Homo sapiens: one gene and its partner. The protein of the gene in region 2 purifies or fractionates together with the protein of the main gene of each other region. This does not show direct contact. Each region holds a gene or a part of one and is shown on either strand. Other genes may lie near its edges.

Region 1 (4,308 bases), on a different chromosome or scaffold from region 2:
GGATCTTCATGCCCTTTCCTGGCCCAATTCCTTCTCTTTATTGCAGATATAATTACTCTTCTGATTTTATCATAAGTTGGTTTTGCTTATTCTATAGTTCCATATTAATGGAATTATTCATTATACATTCTTAAAATCTGCCGCCTTTTGATCAGCATGTTTTTGAGTTTCATCCATGCTGTTGTGTGTATTGGTAGTTTGTTCCTTTTTATTGCTCATGGTATTCAGTTATATGACTATATCACAATATAATTATCTGTCTTCATTGATGGATTGATTCCAGGCTGGGGCTTTTATGAATAAAGCTATTGAAAACATATATTTTCAGACATATGAATGAAAACATACATTTTCATTTCTCTTAAGTAAATAACTAGAAGCAGAAGAGCTAGTTCACAGGGTATTTATATAAAACCATTGTCAGACTGATTTCCCATTCAACACTTCATTTACTCTGTATCGTTATTAACATTTGCTATTGTCCTTTAATTGTACTGATGGGCATATAGTAGTATCTCATTATGGTTTTAATTTGCATTTCCGTTTCCCTCATAAGCAATTTTTCATATATTTCAGTAAGAAGGGCCTGTTCAAGTATTTTGCCCATTTTTAATTGGGTTTTTGTATTTTTATTATTGACTTATAGCAGTTCTTTTTAGTCTTAAAATGAATTCTTTTCAGATAAGTATTTTGAATATTTTCTTCCAATCTGTGACTTGTCTGTTAACTTGTAATGGTATTATTTGATGAACAGTTACTTTTAATTTTGATGAGGTCCAATTTATCATTTTATATGTTTATGACTATTGCTTTCTGGACCCTATCAAAGAAATTTGTCTGCCGAAAAGTTGTGCAGATACTGTTCTGTCGACTTCTACAAGCTTTTAGTTTTAGCTTTTCCATTTAAGTCTGTGATCATTCTCAAATAATTTTTGTGTGTAGTGTGAGGTAGGCCTTGAGATCCACTCTCTCCTTCATGTAGCTTTCCCGTTGTTCTGGATTCATATATTAAAAAACCTTTTCTTTCATTGATTTTCTGAAATTGACATATTTTTAACAGCAGTTTTAGGTTTACAGAAAAATTGAATGGAGAGTATAGAGTTCCCATATAACCACCCCCTTTCCCCTATTATCAACATTAACTTGCATTAGTATGGTGCATTTGTTACCATTTTTGTGCCAATATTGATACATTATTATCAAGTAAAGTCTGTAGTTTACATTAGAGTTCAGTCTTTGTGTTGTACATTCTATGAGTTTCCACAAATGTGTCATGGCATTTATTGAGGTATTGCTCCTCACAAGAGGGCATTAGCTGCGGGGGTCTGCCTGCAGACCTTGACCTAAAAGATGGATGAATGAAACGTACACTGACACACAGATATTGCTTTGCCAGTACTGCTGAGTGTCCGACTGCCTACACACCGAGAGAGGTTTGTCACTGCCGCTGGCCCTGAGTAGTTCACACTCCAGGCATTTATTTCGTATACAATTAACAACAGAAGCTCTGAGTCCACACACTTTTGGATAATTAACATGGTTAAGTGAGTAGTTCTATGAATGATTAAAGCTCAGGTACCGAGGTTTAAAGTAAATATCACTGGGGGCAATATCCCTGCCCCCCCAGAGGCCATCTGACTTAAAGGTTAGTTAACAGAGGTAGGGTAAACAGACTTAACTGGGGAAGCCTCTATTGTCCCTAGTATTTACTCTGTAACTTAATGCTCTAAGGTAAGAACCGGCTGTCTTCGGCCTGTTCAGCTATTACAAGCTATGTAACCTTTTGGCCTTCCAAAAAGGTTTGTGACTATTCCCTATAACTTTCCCTAATATTTCCCTTTAATATTTCTGCCACTATCCTGAGTGAATCCCAACAACTTATCTTCCATTATAGTATGATACGGAATAGTTATCCTCTCCTAAAAACCGCTTGTGCTCCACCTATTCATTTCTCCCTTCTTCCCTCCGTTCCCTGTAATCCCTGGCAACCACTGATCTTTTTACTGTTTCCGTAGTTTTGCCTTTTTAAAGAAGAAGAATAGAGTATGTATCCTTTTCAAATTGACTTCTTTCACTTAGCAATATGCATTTAAGGTTTCGCTATGTCTTTTTATGGTGAGAACTTATTTATCTTTATTACTGAATAATCTTTTATTTTATAGCTGTACCAGTTTGTTTATCTAGACCATCTGGAAACTACCAGTGGGAACACTAGACTTCTGATCATACCAGATAGGGAAGTTTTATTCTGTCACATGTGTAAAGGGTTGCTGATGTTAAACAGCATTGTATACACATCGGCATTATTTGCAGTTTCATAATTCAGAAAATGTGAATTTTTAATATTTCTGAGTCTCATTTATATGCTTTGTATATATTGACCCTGAGAAGAAAAATAAGTTTTATGCAAAGTCTCATCTTAAAATCATATAGCACATACTTTTGTTTTAGTTTTAAAGCTTCTAATAATACTTTCGTGATTTAGCCAAAAAATAGTCATGGTCAATATTTACATTTAAAGGGTAAGCTGTCTTCTAATGGAATGCTTGCATCATGCTAAATTAAATAATTAAAGAATGCATTTTTAAGCTTTGAAATTTGGTCTATTTACAGAAACGTAACATGGATCCCAGTTATAAAACGCATATGAGGTCTTTTTAGAAGTTATATGGGGTTTGCTTGGTTTCAATGTAGCTAAAGAGTAATACTGTCCTCCCTAAGGAATCCTGCAGTGGGGAGTTGAGATGGTTTTTTTTCTTGGACAGGGTGGCGGGGGCAGGTTAGTTTATCCAGTTAGAAAGTTAATGTGCCCAGTTAGACAGTTAATGTGCAATTACTTATATAATAAAGTTTGAGCTTTCTCAAAACCCAGTGGTATTCTAAAGTGATGTTTTGGCATGACATGTGGTAAGTTTTAATTGAGGTAAACTTTTTCCATATTAAATTAGACCATTAATTTGATGTTTGTTCTTTGAAGATTATTTGAAGCTTGTAAAGTTTGGTTCACCTTTTAACTTTGTGGATGTGTTCTTTATGTTACGCTCTTTCTTCCTTCTTCTTCCCAGGGTATAGTTAATAAAGTGTCTTCTAGCCACATTGGCTGTTTAGTACATGGGTGTTTCAATGCCTCCATTCCTAAACCTGAGCAGTTGTCAGCTGAGCAGTGGCAAACCATGGAGATAAACATGGGTGATGAACTAGAATTTGAAGTATTTCGTTTAGACTCAGATGCTGCTGGAGTATTCTGCATTCGGGGAAAACTAAATATCACAAGGTTAGTTTATCATTACGTAATTATCACTAGGTACTTAATTTCTATTTAATTCTGAATTTTAAAGAGAATTTTATTTTAATTTTAAAGAGAATAAGCCTCTCTAAAAATACCTGTTTATAGGAATATTCATGCTTTCAAACCATAAAGTCAATATAAACAATACTCTTAAGTAATCTGTAACAGTGCATCAAATAAATATTCTGAAACACAGACTAGCTAACTGGTCTGTATTTTAATATTTAATAGTTCAATTTTGCTGAGTATTTTCTATTTTGTTGTTAACTTTTTTTTTAAAGTTGACCTCTAAACTTGAAACTACTGAAAGCACAATTACCTTCCTAACTATTGGCCTGCTTTGTTTTTACACACAAAAAATTGTGTTGATTATTGTCTTCTGTGCCAGATATTTTAATTTCTGTATTATTCTGTATAGAAATTATTATAAGAATTAACTCTGATCTTGAGCTTGATTCCATGGGAGCCAAGTTTAAAGGAAGAAGGAGAGAGACAACTCTTAAAATGCTGCTATTGCTAATAATTTTTTCTGTATTTTGCCTTAAAGTTACAAGAGTATGGGTTGAAGTTCTGGAACAGCTGTTCAATTTCTGTAATGACAGAAATACAGTTTATATACATAGTACAGCAGCCTCACTATTGAGCATTGAAATATGACTAAGTCTGACTGAGGAACTGAATTTCTAAAGTTATGTTTTTGGTAGTGATTAGGTACATGTGCCTAGTGCTACTGTATAAGACTGAAGTTCTGGAGAGAAAGCTACTTCATCGATCCATGTTTTATTTTAGTGGTGTAAAATAATTCACAATGTTAAAGTAATACTATCTTAGTATCAGCTAAGTAGAACAATGGACTATTATTTGAAACAAGATTAAAATAGTAGACTGGAAACTCCATTGCTTTGATAAATACCAGATCATATTTTCTATTAGATGTCAGTGGTTTGGTTAATAAGCCTAGGTATTGTGGTGTTTAATGTTCAGTGACCAAATTTTTCTGAAACAACCCAAAACTTGGA
Region 2 (5,118 bases):
ATGGGGGCTCACTGGCAGGGATCTGCTGCTCAACTCCTCTCTGCTAGGATGTGTCTTCCTGGAATTTACTGACCTCCACCCATCAGCAATTCTAGTCCAACCTTTAGGTGTTTCTGTGAGCCTTCTTTGTGTGACCTTCAACAAGTAACTTCTCTGCACAAAATATAATGTCTTCACTGTGTGCCGCCACCACCACCCTGGTAAGTTGGCACTTCCTTCTGAACTTACACTTCAGCTGGGGTCAGAATCACCCTCACAAGAAACCTCAGCCAGAAACCTGGGGATTGTTCTTGACTTCCCACCTTCCTTATCACCACAAATCCTTTGAGTCTCTATGTCCGAAAGATTTTTTTTTTTCTTTGAGTTGGAGTCTCGCTCTGTCACCCAGGCTGAAGCGCAGTGGCATGACCTCGGCTCACTGCACCCTCTGCCTCCCGGGCTCAAGCAATTCTCCTGCCTCAGCCTCCTGAGTAGCTGGGACTATAGGCATGCACCATAAAACCCAGCTAATTTTTCTATTTTTAGCAGAGACAGGGTTTCACCATGTTGGCTGGGCTGATCTTGAACTCCTGACCTCAAGTGATCCAACCACCTCAGCCTCGCAAAGTGCTGGGATTACAGGTGTGAGCCACCACACCCGGCCATGATTTTTCTATCTTAAGCATTACTTGAATTGGATCCCTCTTTAATGATGGCTTTCCTTGATGAAGCCCATGTCACGGGACCAGTGGGATTCTTCTTTGTGAAGTGGTCACCGTGCTTTTGAATCTTCCTTACAAATTATTCCATACACATCACAAATCTGACCAAGTTAACATCACTGGTTCCACAGCTGTCTTATGGCTAAGCAGTTCTGAATCACACAATAACTCTGTGATCCTGGGCAAGTTACTCTACTCCCCTTTTGCCTTTTCTTTTTAGGTGGAAAGAGTACAACACAGCACTTATCACAGAGGCGGTTGTCAGGACCAAACGACCATACAAAGGGCTTAGTATGGCTCCTGGAGCATAGTAAGCCTCCAAAGATACAACTGGTGTGACTGTGGACTGTTCCCAACCTGTAGTCCATGGAAGTCCATGGATGAGCTTCAGGGGATCCGTGAAGTCCCTGAAAATGTATGGAAAATTTGGTTTGCAGGTTTATGTTCTGCAGGTTCCCCGCACAACACCTCTTTCCTGCAGGACAGGGTGGAAAGCTCTTCTCAGAGACCTAAAGTCTGCATCCTAAACTTTGAAAGCTTCACAAGCACAATGAGACATTCCGTCCCATGTGACTGTCTTCCCCCTCCCTTGACTCCACTCCCTGTGACCTTCCCTTACCCCTGAATTAGAGGCACGGCCATCCTTCTCTGATCAGGTCCTGCTATTCCTCTTCTCTACATCCCCACCACAGATAGTCCAATCCTCTGCGACTGTGCTCCACTGACACCCCTGCACAGTACATCCCACAGGGGCGGTTTCCACGTCCCCATTCACCCAGAGCCCTATGCTGGGGGTGCTCCTGTAGAGAGGAGCAGAGACCCTCAGTGTGCAGAAGACCACCACCCTCCTGCTCTCCTGCTCACTCTCCCGCTTCCTCCACTCGCTACTGTCCTGGTCTCTGCCGCCCTCCCTGCACAACACCTCTTTCCCACAAGTTCCAGTCCAGCAGGTGGAAGCAGCTGTCATCCCGAGGCTCACCAGCTCCCCTTCTCAATGTTTTTCAATCTGAAACTGCCCAGAGGAAGAGCTGAAGGACCCCACAGCTCACCTGGGGCCAGGCTGTCAGGTGCATGGCTGCCATCCCCTGGTCCCCGTCTCAGAGAAGGGCTGGAGCTAAGGAGAAACACAAAGAGAGACAAGTGTGAGGCAAGCCACCCCAACCAGAGCAACATAGCCCCTCACAGAAAATGCAAGACACAGGCAGCTTGCATCCAAATAGGAGTGCGAACAGGAGCTGCCCAAGAAGGGAATGATCTGTTCACTGGCTCAGTGCCTAGGACTCCAGGCTATGACACTGAAATTCACTGCCAGGAACCCTAGGACTTTACAATTCTGATACATATCACACACACTGAAGAGTATATATATAAAATTTAAAAATAAACAAATAAAAATTAAAAATAAAAAGAAGAAGAAGAGTGCATATAAAACCTGCTGGGCACGGTGGCTCGTGCCTATAATCCCAACAGTTTGAGAGGCCAAGGCGGGTGGATCACTTGAGCTCAGGAGTTCGAGACCAGCCTGGACACATGGCAAAACCCTGTCTCTATAAAAAATACAAAAATTAGGCTGGGCGCGGTGGCTCAAGCCTGTAATCCCAGCACTTTGGGAGGCCAGGGCGGGTGGATCACAAGGTCAGGAGATCAAGACCATCCTGGCTAACACGGTGAAACCCCGTCTCTACTAAAAATATAAAAATTAGCCGGGCGTGCTGGCGGGCGCCTGTAGTCCCAGCTACTCGGGTGGCAGAGGCAGGAGAATGGTGTGAACCCGGGAGGCAGAGCTTGCAGTGAGCCAAGATTGCGCCACTGCACTCCAGCCTGGGCAACAGAGCAAGACTCCGTCTCAAAAAAAAAAAAATTAGCCAGAGGTGGTGACACATGCCTGTGGTCCCAGCTATTCGGGAGTCTGAGGTAGGAGGATCACTTGAGCCCGGGAGGTCAAGGCTGCAGTGAGCCAGTATCACACCACTGCACTCCAGCCTGGGTGATGAGAGTGAGACGCTATCTCAAAAAAATAAAAAATAAAAATAAAATAAAATGTATGCAGAGCCTAAAAAATAAAGCAAAGAGTCATGTATCCACAATTCATTTCAAGAAATAGGACAATACCAAGATCTTTGACTTATTTCTCTTTCTCAACACAAGCATTATCTTCAGTATCACAGCAGGAGAAGCTGGACTGGCTGGGCTGCAGCCCCAGTACACAAGCCTGGGGAGTCAGACCCCAGGGAGGCAGCGCCTGGAGAAGGCAGCTGCCCCCCAGTATCCTGCCCCACTTCCTCAGAGCTCTGAATGTCCTCAAGAATCCTAACACCTCTGGAGAGGTCTTGAGAGGTCAGTCCTCCTAAGGACAGCACAGGCTGTCCTTAGGAAGCTGAGCTGGAAGTTAGGAACCAGGCTGTTTCCCAAACTTTCCAGTCTTCTGATAGTGAATGAGCCAAGGCCTACACTTCTGCGTCAGCTCCTGAGAGAGGAGATCACTGTAGCAGCCAGTCCCGTGACCCAGAGCCTCTTGTTCACTGTATTCAAAAACATATGGACTAGTGATTTTCTGACTTTTACTGCCCCTAAAGTCAGTCTTGAAATTACATTTTCCTAAAATATCATCCATTTCTTCCAGGATTTCAACTTTACTAGTACAGAGTTGCAGAAAATACTGGTTCATGATTCTTTCCATTTCCTCCATATCCAGAGCTAGTTTGCTTTTCCCACTTCTTCTTTTGAATATATGTGCTTTCTAGACCTTTTTCCCAGGGTTAGAGTTAGAGACTAAACATTTATGCCCCTGCCAAATTCATATGTTGAAGCTCTAGCCTCCAATGTGACTGTATATGGAGACGGGGCCTGTCAGGAGGTTACAAGGATAAATGAGGTCCTAAGGGTGGGACTAAAGGTCCTAAGGTTAAATGAGGTCCAATAGGGGTGATGCCTTTACAAGAAGAAGGAGAGACCCAGAGCCCACGAAACCACTCACTCCCCGCCTCCCCCATGTGAGGACACAACGAGAGGGCTACTATCTATAAGCCAGGAAGGCAACCCTGGCAGGAGCCAAAATCAGCTGGCACCTTGATCCTGGACTTCCAGTCTCCAGGACTGTGAGAAATAAGTATGTTGGTGAAGCCACCCAGTCTATGGTATTTTGTTATGGCAGCCCAAGCAGACTAATACAGTTAGGCTGAGCAGTGTTTTACTTATTTTAATGTGGTTTCCTTTTATTTTCAAAGAACCAGCTTTTCTAGTTGAGCAACACTACTTTCTTCTATTTGTTTTAAATTCACTAATTCTGCTCTTAGTTTGTTCCTTCAGCTCTGTAAGGGGCAGTGTAAGCACCACTCCAATCCTCTTATCCCATCCTCAGTCCAGTTCTACAGAGGTTAGTCAGCTTTGTGAAGCTGCAAGCTACCAGAACCTTCACAAGGACCTACATCACCTATGCCTGGTTCCTGCCCTGGGGCTTCTCTGGTGTCCTATGTGGGACACCTGTGGACACCTGCTGGGCCCTGAAGTGCAGAGGCATTAACACCTGTGGGACCCCCTTGACCAATAGGGGAGAGAAACCAATGGATAAATGTTTTCCCCGTCGATCCCCCAGCGGGGCAGCCTTAAGACTCCAAGGCTCCTCAAACGCCCTGCAAGGCAGAGCCTGTTGAGGGCCGAGCATACCAATGCATCCTTGTACCAGTTCTCCCATCTCTGTTTCACTCCCCTTGTCTTTCACTCTGCCCCTGTGACCATATTCCTAAATAAATTCCTACATACAAATCTTTGTTCCACGTTCTGCTTTTGGGGAAGCTTAGACTACAAAAGGCTTTTTTCCCACCTTCTTGAGGTTGCATGACTTATTCATTTATTTTCATTCTTCCTATTTGGCAATTAAAGCCTATAAGGCCACAAATTTTCCTTGGGATACACTATTTGCCACATTCCAGAGGTTTTTATATTTCATGTTTTAATTACTGTTTTATAGTCAGTCAGCAATTCTGTTTTGTCTCTGACCTAGTAATTGCTTAGGATAGTTTACTGTTGCTAATTTCTTCTGTTTATAAGTTCTGGCTTTATTGCATGATGGTTATATAACCCAATCTACTAACTTCTACTTTACACATTTTTCAGGGTTTTTTTGTGACTCATGTCCATTTAAAAAAATATATTATCTGGTGTTTAAAGAGAAAACTTATTCTGTGATGGGAGAATATACAACTCCATTTTTAGATAATAAACCAACTCTACCAATTACATATGTAGTGTGATAGCTACCCCGCTCAGCTAGTCAAGGGTGTATACCTGCTGCCTGAACCTTGAAGACCGGGCAGTGAGTCAAGACCATGGGGCTCAGCAGAGGAGCAGGTGTTTGCAAGAACGTAAACATCCTAGAAAGTATATGAGAACCTACCAAGAAAAGTCTCATCGTTTA

What was found. The genes of interacting proteins can lie anywhere in the genome.
Region 1: the proteins of ZNF23 (region 2) and POLR1F purify together in Homo sapiens (affinity purification with mass spectrometry; one large-scale study listed by BioGRID and IntAct). This does not show direct contact.

Annotation. Positions count from the first base shown.
Region 1 is NC_000007.14:19,699,038-19,703,345, reverse strand, and holds part of POLR1F (DNA-directed RNA polymerase I subunit RPA43), read left to right. Parts: intron 1-3,065; coding exon 3,066-3,274; intron 3,275-4,308. UniProt on the Homo sapiens protein: Component of RNA polymerase I (Pol I), a DNA-dependent RNA polymerase which synthesizes ribosomal RNA precursors using the four ribonucleoside triphosphates as substrates.
Region 2 is NC_000016.10:71,455,014-71,460,131, forward strand, and holds part of ZNF23 (zinc finger protein 23), read right to left. Parts: intron 1,816-5,118; 5' UTR 1,784-1,815; coding exon 1,751-1,783; exon of another isoform or gene 1,681-1,750; intron 1,109-1,680; exon of another isoform or gene 1,080-1,108; coding exon of another isoform or gene 1,059-1,079; intron 1-1,058. UniProt on the Homo sapiens protein: May be involved in transcriptional regulation. May have a role in embryonic development.